2 separate regions of the Homo sapiens genome follow, and region 2 is linked to region 1. Evidence: fine-mapped expression QTL. Tissue or cell type: whole blood. Region 1 holds a variant in brackets; the other region holds the start of a gene. All regions are shown on one strand. Distances are from middle to middle.

Region 1 (5,642 bases):
TCCCCCAGACCACCCCCCACAGCCTGTCCTCCCTGCAGCAGCCACCAGAGGGCGCCTGTGAGCACCTGAGTCAGGGCCAGTCCCTCCTCTGCCCACAGCCCTCCATGGCTCCCAAGTCCCTCAGGGTCAAAGCCCAAGACTTCCCTGCAACCCACAAGGCCCAGCACAACCCACCCTCCCCTCCTTCCTCTCTCCCCCTCCTCACTCTGCTCCAGCCACAAGGGCCTCCTCACTGTTCCTCCAATATGCCAGGTGCGGCCCTGCCCCAGGGCCTTTGCACAAGCTGTTACTGTCACCTGGTGTGCCCTCTAAGATTTTGACAGCCACCTTCCGGCCTTCACAAATCACTTTCACTGAGAGGCCTTCCTTGACTGCTCACAAATCACTTCCACTGAGAGGCCTTCCTTGACTGCGTGGCTATCGTAGTCACCTAATTACTCCTTGCCCTATTTATCCTATGTTATTTCTTTCGTAAAAGTTTCTCTACCTGAAATTATTGTAGCAAATAATAATACATATTAGTATTGTTATGATAAATAATAAAAATAGGCCAGGCACGGTGGCTCACGCCTGTAATCCCAGCACTTTGGGAGGCCGAGGCAGACGGATCACTTGAGCCCAGGAATTTGAGACCAGCCTGGCTAACATGGTGAAACCACAGCTGTACTAAAAATACAAAAATTAACTAGGCGTGGTGGCACGCGCCTGTTACCCCAGCTACTTGGGAGGCTGAGGGAGGAGAATCACTTGAACCTGGGAGCCAGAGGTTGCAGTGAGCTGAGATTGCGCCATTGCACTCCAGCCTGGGCAACAGAGAATCTGTCTAAAAAAAAAGAAAAAAAGAAAAAAGAAAAAAACCCATAAGAACCATAACCATAAAAAGTATTAAAAACACAAAAACTGGCCAGGCGCGGTGGCTCACGCTTGTAATCCCAGCACTTTGGGAGGCCGAGGCGGGTGGATCACGAGGTCAAGACCACGGTGAAACCCCGTCTCTACTAAAAATACAAAAAAATTAGCCGGGCGTGGTGGCGGGTGCCTGTAGTCCCAGCTACTCAGAGAGGCTGAGGCAGGAGAATGGTGTGAACCCGGGAGACGGAGCTTGCAGTGAGCCGAGGTCGCGCCACTGCACTCCAGCCTGGGTGACAGAGCAAGACTCCATCTCAAAAAAAAAAAAAAAAAGAAGAGAAAAAGAAAACAAAAACAAACAAAAACTTTCTGGCCACACAAAGATAACTGGATCTGGCCCTCAAGCAGCCGGAGTTTGCGACCCTTACCGTGAGCATTTTATAATCAATTCATTTGGCCCTCAGTTTGATGCAGCAGGCATGGTCTGTTGAGGTCCATGTTTTGTTTTTTTTGTTTGTTTGTTTTGTTTTTTTTTGAGACAGAATCTCGCCCTGTCGCTCAGGCTGGAGTACAATGGTGTGATCTCAGCTCACTGCAATCTCTGCCTCCCAGGTTCAAGCGATTCTCCTGCCTCAGCCTCCTGCGTAGCTGGGATTACAGGCGTGAGCCACCACACCCGGCTAATTTTGTATTTTTAATAGAGATGGGGTTTCGCCATGTTTACCAGGTTGGTCTCTAACTCCTGACCTCAGGTGATCCGCCTGCCTCAGCCTCCCAAAGTGCTGGGACTACAGGCATGAGCCACCGTGCCCAGCCTGAGGTTCATGTTTTACAGATGGGGAAACCAAGGCACAGAGCGGCAAAGCCGCTAGCCTAGGGTCACTGAGTGAGGTCCCGGCTGCACCGGGGTTTGAACCCAGGAGGCCTGGCGTGGAGTTGGGGGTGTCTGACGTGGGGTTGGGGGTGTCGGGGGTGGGAGTCCCGTGGAGGGCTGAGCGGTTCTGCTGCTCCATCCCCAGGCCCAGGCGAGAGCGGGAAGAGCACCTTCATCAAGCAGATGCGGATCATCCACGGCGCCGGCTACTCGGAGGAGGAGCGCAAGGGCTTCCGGCCCCTGGTCTACCAGAACATCTTCGTGTCCATGCGGGCCATGATCGAGGCCATGGAGCGGCTGCAGATTCCATTCAGCAGGCCCGAGAGCAAGGTGAGCCGCCAGGGCAGGCAGGGGCCCAGGGCAGGCAGGGGCCCAGGGCAGGGTTCCCCAGACCCCGGAGCAGGGCCAAGTTCCCCAGACTTCAG[G/A]GCAGGGCAGGGCAGGGCAGGGCAGGCAGGGAAGGGTCCCCAGACCCTGGGGCAAGGCCATGTCCTCCAGACATATGTGCATACATACAAGTGCACACACAAGTATACACGCATAAATGCACACACGCACATGTATGCACACGCACAGACATGCACACAAGGACACACACGTACATGCTCACAAAGATACACACGCATGCCCACATGCACACACCCACACACATACACAAATGAATGCACACACGTGCACACGTGTGCACACACACAAATGCACACAAGGATCCATGCAGATGCCCCCACACAGATGCACACAAATAAGTGCACACACAAATGTACACACTCAAACACGCCCATGCACGTGTACACACTCACAAACACACACAAGAATGCATGCAAATTCCCACATGCACACACACACATGCACATACACAAACACACACAAGCATGCATGCAAATTCCCACATGCACACACACACATGCACATACACAAACACACAAGGATACACACATGCCTGCATGCAATCCCCCCATGCACATGCACGCACATGTGTGCACACATACAAATGCACACACAAGCACACCTATGCACGCACCCACAAATGCAGCCAAGGATACATGCGCGTGCCCCACACACAAATATGCAAACAAATCACACACCCAGACACACCCATGTACATGTGTACATCTATACACACACACACACGAGCACGCTTGTACATGAACAAACACAGAGAAATGCACACACAACACTCAGAGTCCATCACAAAGGTCTGAGCAACGCGAGTGCCTGGGGGGAGCTAGGGCTGTTTGGGGAAAAGAAGGGGAAACCCAGAGTCTGGGGGGCAGCTCAGGGTTCACGCGCCTCTGGGGGACTTCTGAGGGGCAGATTGCTTCAGTGCTCTGTGTCTTAGTCGCTTCATCTGTGGAAGGGGGGACTGTGAGTGCCGTGCTTCCTGGGAGCCAGCTAGTGTAAAGAGCGGGGCTGGGTGCCATGCTCCCCCTGAGCCTGGGCTCGCCCGAGCACATGTGCCCTCTGCAGCCCCTCATGTGGTGGTCTGTGCTTTTCCCTCTGGGGATCCATGCAAGAACAGACGGAGGACAAATCAGAAGTGTGCGGGGGGGTCGGGAGCTCTGGGGAAGAAGGAGAGCAGTGGGAAGAGAGCGTGTTTCAGGGAGGGACGTGGGGGCTTGCAGAGATGCCTGCGGAGGGCAGCCCCACTCAGAAAGGCTACCCTAACTGCCCCCGTCCTCCCTCCCCAGCACCACGCTAGCCTGGTCATGAGCCAGGACCCCTATAAAGTGACCACGTTTGAGAAGCGCTACGCTGCGGCCATGCAGTGGCTGTGGAGGGATGCCGGCATCCGGGCCTGCTATGAGCGTCGGCGGGAATTCCACCTGCTCGATTCAGCCGTGTAGTGAGTCTGGGGTCTGCGGGGGATGGGCGCGTGGGGAGGGGCTGAGGGCAGGGGCCAGGCTGGCTGGCTTCCTGCAGCAGGAGATATTGTGGGCGCAGATGGGCTGTGAGGTGGTCCTGCTCCAGGATGAGGTCCTTCCAGGGGGACCCTAATTCCCGGGGGACCCTGTTCTGGGGGTGACCCTTTTCCTGGGGGAACTCCCTTCATGGAATGACCTTGTTCCTGGGTGGACCCTGTTCCTTGGGACTCTGTTCTGGCGGTGATCTTGTTCTTGGAATGACCCTATTCATAGGGGGACTCTGTTCTAGGAGTGACTCTGTTCCTGAGGGAATCCAGTTCCTTGGGGAGACCCTGTTCTAGGGGGTATCCTGTTCCTAGAGTGACCCTGTGCCTGGGGTTCCCTGTTCCTGCGAGGACCCTGTTTCAGGGGTGACCCTGTTCCTGGGGGAACCGTATTCCTAGAGTGACCCTGTTCTTGGGGGGAACCCTGATCCTGGGGGGAACCCTATTCCTGGAGAACCCTGTTCCTGGAGTGACCCTGGGCCTTGGAGTCCCTGTTCCCGTGAGGACCCTGTTTCAGGGGTGACCCTGTTTCTGGGGGGACCCTGTTCCCGGGGGTGACTCTGTTCCCAGGGAGACCCTATTTCCTGGGGGATCCTGTTCTGGCGTTGATCCTTTTCCTGGAGTGACCCTGTTCCTAGGGGTGATCCTGTTCCTGGGGGGACTGTATTCCTAGAGTGACCCTGTTCTTGGAGGGACCCTGTTCCTGGGGGGACCTTGTTCCTGGGGGAACCCTATTCCTAGAGAACCCTGTTCCCGGAGTGACCCTATTCCTGGCGGGAACCTGTTCCTAGAGTGCCCCTGTTTTAGAAGGGACCCTTTTCTGGGAGTGACCCTGTTTCTGAGGGGACCCTATTCTGGGGGGACCCTGTTCCTGGAGTGACCCTGTTCCTGGGGGGACCCTGTTCCTAAAGTGACCCTGTTTTAGGGGGGACTCTGTTCCAGGGGAGACCCTGTTCTGGGGGTGACCCTATTCCTAGTGGGATCCTGTACTAGGTGTGATGGTGGATGTCCAAGGTGGCTTGATGTCTGGGAAGACTGTTCCCAGGCTACCAGCATTCTTGGGGTAGCGCCACCCCTGCCATAGCAGCTCTCCCGGGGGACACCACTCCTCGATGAGGCCATTCCTCATGTCACGCCATCCCTCGGGTCACCCTGCTCTGCGTGTGAAGCTGCTTTTCCTTGGGGCTCCATTGCCTCAGGTGGGGGACGCTCCTGGGCCATCTGCCAACTCCAGGGACCCCACCTCCACCCAGGGAGCTCTCCTCCCCCAGCAGGGTCCTTGCTGGGCCTTTCGTAGGGCCTGGGAAGCAAAGGGAGGCTGGCTGCAAGGCTGGGCCTCAGGACTCCTTGCTCTGCAGCTACCTGTCCCACCTGGAGCGCATCACCGAGGAGGGCTACGTCCCCACAGCTCAGGACGTGCTCCGCAGCCGCATGCCCACCACTGGCATCAACGAGTACTGCTTCTCCGTGCAGAAAACCAACCTGCGGTGAGCGCTCCACCTAGGCCCAGCCTAGGGGGCAGGGAAGGCTTCCTGTAGGAAGGGCAAAGGAGCTGGGGCCCTGAGGGATGAGTAGGAGTTTCTTAGGCCCAGCCTTCAAGGAGCTGCCAAGCTAGGGGAAGCAAAGCTCCATGTAGACACCTCCAGGCCCCCAGGTAGTCAGGACTGGGACCTGTAGGAGCCCAGGCTGAGGCATCAGAGATCCAGGAGGGAATATCTTCTTGGAGGAGGGAATATTAATGGGGTTTTGAAAGACGAATAGGAGTTCAGTAGTCCTAACCCTGAAGGGGCTGCTGGGGAGGAGGAAATAGAGACTATACAGTCAGGACCAGGTCTGGGGAGGCCTGGTCTGGGGAGCTCAGAGGTGATCCCTGTAGTCATCAACACTGGGGGATGGACTAGAGTGTGAGGCTGGAAGTCAGGAAACTCAGAAAAAGGAGGAGCCAGGACAGCGGGCGTGGGGATGGAAAGGAAGGGATGGGCAAGAGTTGTTTCTGATGTGGAATGGGCAGGACTG
Region 2 (4,000 bases), 29 kb after region 1:
TTCTGGGGCCTGCATTATTTCCCAAATCACCCCACACCCCAAGGCCTTCTGGATGGGGACGAGTGGGGGGTCACAGACACTGGGGGAGCTGGAGAGCAGAGACCTCACACTCCATCCGTGACAGATGATGTCCAAGCCCCTACATGCCCCAGACCCCAGGGCAAGGCTGAGCCTCCCTCCTCAGACCCCAGGGCAAGGCTGAGCATCCCCACTCAGACCTCAGGGTAGGGCCTCGCCTCCTCCCTTGGACCCCAGGACAGGGCCTCACCTCTCCCCTCAGACCCCAAGGCAGGGCCTCGCCTCCCCCCTCAGACTCAGGACAGGGCCATGCCTCCCCACTCAGACCCCAAGGCAAGGCCAACCCTCACCCCTAGACCCCAGGCAGGTTCAAGCCTCCCCGCTCAAACCTCAGGGCAGGGCATACCTCCCTCCTCAGACCCAGGGCAGGGTGTGTCTCCCCTCTCAGACCACAGCACAGGGCCTCGCATCCCTCCTCAGACCCCAGGACAAGGCTGAGCCTCTCCGCTCAGACCCCAGGGTAAGGTCATGCCTCCCCTCTCAGAACCTAGGGCAAGGCCAACCCTCCCCCCTCAGACCCCAGGCAGGTCCAAGCTTCCCCCTCAGACGCCAGGGCAGAGCCTGCCTCCCTCCTCAGACGCCAGAGCAGGGTGTGTCTCCCACTTAGACCCACAGCCACCTCACCTCAGGCTGAGTCACCGTGAGCCGTTGTCAGCAGGGCCATGGGGATGGGGTGAGCAAGTCCCTACTTTTCCTATGCACCTCAATCCCAGTGGGGGGCTGCCCCAGGGGGCCAGCAGCTCTGCTCCCAGCAGGGTGAGCTCAGGGGCAGGAGAGGCAACCATGAATCCCAAAATGGGCGCCTGGCCCCGAGACCCTACCAGCTTGTCCCTGGGGGTCTCTCTCCCTGGACCTGTGTGTCCTCCCATGGGCAGAAAGTTGGCCTCAGGCCGCCTTTGTGGGCCTCAGTTTTCCCTTCTGTAACGCATCAGGCTCTCTGGGCCTCAGTTTCCCCTTCTGCAACGCATCGGGCTCTCTGGGCCTCAGTTTCCCCTTCTGCAACGCATCGGGCTCTCTGGGCCTCAGTTTCCCCTTCTGCAACGCATCGGGCTCTCTGGGCCTCAGTTTCCCCTTCTGCAACGCCTCGGGCTCTCTGGGCCTCAGTTTCCCCTTCTGCAACGCATCGGGCTCTCTGGGCCTCAGTTTCCCCTTCTGCAACGCCTCGGGCTCTCTGGGCCTCAGTTTCCCCTTCTGCAACGCCTCGGGCTCTCTGGGCCTCAGTTTCCCCTTCTGCAACGCATCGGGCTCTCTGGGCCTCAGTTTCCCCTTCTGCAACGCATCGGGCTCTCTGGGCCTCAGTTTCCCCTTCTGCAACGCATCGGGCTCTCTGGGCCTCAGTTTCCCCTTCTGCAACGCCTCGGGCTCTCTGGGCCTCAGTTTCCCCTTCTGCAACGCCTCGGGCTCTCTGGGCCTCAGTTTCCCCTTCTGCAACGCATCGGGCTCTCTGGGCCTCAGTTTCCCCTTCTGCAACGCATCGGGCTCTCTGGGCCTCAGTTTCCCCTTCTGCAACGCACCGGGCTCTCTGGGCCTCAGTTTCCTCTTCTGTAACGCATCAGGCCCTGTTTCGGGGATCAAGTCGGATGAGTCAGTGCTCAAGGGCATGCAGGCACTTGACATTTATTAGGCACCTGCTGTGTGCTGAGCGCCGGTGGAGCATGTGGGGAGACCTCAGTGGAGCCGACGGGTGCTTCGGGGGTGATCAGGGCTGGTGGGGAGGAGTCGTCCGGCTGGAAAGGGGTGGCCCATCCCGAGTGGGGACTCATTTCCCCTCCGTGACTGACGGCTCCGGGGCTCCCTGCGGGTCTCCGGCTTTCGAGGACAGGAAGAAGGCAGCCAGGGCAGGGGTGGGGGTCCTCACAGCCAGGGCAGCCCCAGCGCGTTGGCTCCAGGAGCCCGGGTGGGGGCCGACCGTTGGGGTGCCCCTCCCTGTCCTCGGCCTTACCTCCACCCTGGAGGGCACCTTGAACATAACAGGAAATTTCAAATAACAGGAAACCAAGACCAGCAAGGCGGGTGGCTCCACCCTGCGTCGGGCCTCAGTCAGCCCCCGGGGGAGGCCATGAACGCCACGGGGACCCCGGTGGCCCCCGAGTCCTGCCAACAGCTGGCGGCCGGCGGGCACAGCCGGCTCATTGTTCTGCACTACAACCACTCGGGCCGGCTGGCCGGGCGCGGGGGGCCGGAGGATGGCGGCCTGGGGGCCCTGCGGGGGCTGTCGGTGGCCGCCAGCTGCCTGGTGGTGCTGGAGAACTTGCTGGTGCTGGCGGCCATCACCAGCCACATGCGGTCGCGACGCTGGGTCTACTATTGCCTGGTGAACATCACGCTGAGTGACCTGCTCACGGGCGCGGCCTACCTGGCCAACGTGCTGCTGTCGGGGGCCCGCACCTTCCGTCTGGCGCCCGCCCAGTGGTTCCTACGGGAGGGCCTGCTCTTCACCGCCCTGGCCGCCTCCACCTTCAGCCTGCTCTTCACTGCAGGGGAGCGCTTTGCCACCATGGTGCGGCCGGTGGCCGAGAGCGGGGCCACCAAGACCAGCCGCGTCTACGGCTTCATCGGCCTCTGCTGGCTGCTGGCCGCGCTGCTGGGGATGCTGCCTTTGCTGGGCTGGAACTGCCTGTGCGCCTTTGACCGCTGCTCCAGCCTTCTGCCCCTCTACTCCAAGCGCTACATCCTCTTCTGCCTGGTGATCTTCGCCGGCGTCCTGGCCACCATCATGGGCCTCTATGGGGCCATCTTCCGCCTGGTGCAGGCCAGCGGGCAGAAGGCCCCACGCCCAGCGGCCCGCCGCAAGGCCCGCCGCCTGCTGAAGACGGTGCTGATGATCCTGCTGGCCTTCCTGGTGTGCTGGGGCCCACTCTTCGGGCTGCTGCTGGCCGACGTCTTTGGCTCCAACCTCTGGGCCCAGGAGTACCTGCGGGGCATGGACTGGATCCTGGCCCTGGCCGTCCTCAACTCGGCGGTCAACCCCATCATCTACTCCTTCCGCAGCAGGGAGGTGTGCAGAGCCGTGCTCAGCTTCCTCTGCTGCGGGTGTCTCCGGCTGGGCATGCGAGGGCCCGGGGACTGCCTGGCCCGGGCCGTCGAGGCTCACTCCGGAGCTTCCACCACCGACAGCTCTCTGAGGCCAAGGGACAGCTTTCGCGGCTCCCGCTCGCTCAGCTTTCGGATGCGGGAGCCCCTGTCCAGCATCTCCAGCGTGCGGAGCATCTGAAGTTGCAGTCTTGCGTGTGGATGGTGCAGCCACCGGGTGCGTGCCAGGCAGGCCCTCCTGGGGTACAGGAAGCTGTGTGCACGCAGCCTCGCCTGTATGGGGAGCAGGGAACGGGACAGGCCCCCATGGTCTTCCCGGTGGCCTCTCGGGGCTTCTGACGCCAAATGGGCTTCCCATGGTCACCCTGGACAAGGAGGCAACCACCCCACCTCCCCGTAGGAGCAGAGAGCACCCTGGTGTGGGGGCGAGTGGGTTCCCCACAACCCCGCTTCTGTGTGATTCTGGGGAAGTCCCGGCCCCTCTCTGGGCCTCAGTAGGGCTCCCAGGCTGCAAGGGGTGGACTGTGGGATGCATGCCCTGGCAACATTGAAGTTCGATCATGGTACGTGATGTTGCGGCCTCTTATTCCCTGGTGCGTGCATGCGTGGGGGCCGTGGCTCAGGGGGGCTGTGGATCTAGGGGCAGCCGGGTGTGTCTTTGCTAGAGAGGGCCACGGGCCAGTGCCCTGTGAGGGTGGAGTGTGTGTGTGTGTGTGTGTGTGTGTGTGTGTGTGTGGACAACCTCTGGGCGTTGCGGGAAGTGGGGGTGACAATGACAGTTAATGCCGCCTCTTCTTGTTCACTTCCCCTTTAGAAATGGCAGGGCCCATGCCCCATCTCTGGCCTCTGCATCTTTTGGGGACCCACTCTCTGGGGCTGGCAGAGGCAC

Evidence for each region. PIP is the estimated chance that this variant, and not a neighbour inherited with it, causes the effect.
Region 2: it holds the start of S1PR4, and the variant in region 1 is fine-mapped to the expression of S1PR4 in whole blood (INTERVAL, PIP above 0.99).

Annotation. Positions count from the first base shown.
Region 1 is chr19:3,146,723-3,152,364 of GRCh38, forward strand. GNA15 (G protein subunit alpha 15) reads left to right here. Exons shown (of 7, transcript NM_002068.4): 2 at 1,869-2,053; 3 at 3,409-3,563; 4 at 4,985-5,113. GNA15-DT (GNA15 divergent transcript) reads right to left here. Exons shown (of 4, transcript NR_110670.1): 2 at 1,894-3,068. Among named protein-coding and RNA genes, the nearest start is that of GNA15-DT, 5.6 kb to the right of the region's middle. The variant G/A (reference allele first, on the strand shown) is at 2,149.
Region 2 is chr19:3,176,656-3,180,655 of GRCh38, forward strand. It overlaps S1PR4 (sphingosine-1-phosphate receptor 4), which reads left to right and starts at 2,114. Exons shown (of 1, transcript NM_003775.4): 1 at 2,114-3,677. The coding sequence starts at 2,138. The coding sequence ends at 3,292. RefSeq lists enhancers at 96-978, 2,562-3,211, 3,252-3,431, 3,472-3,701 and a silencer at 1,782-2,331.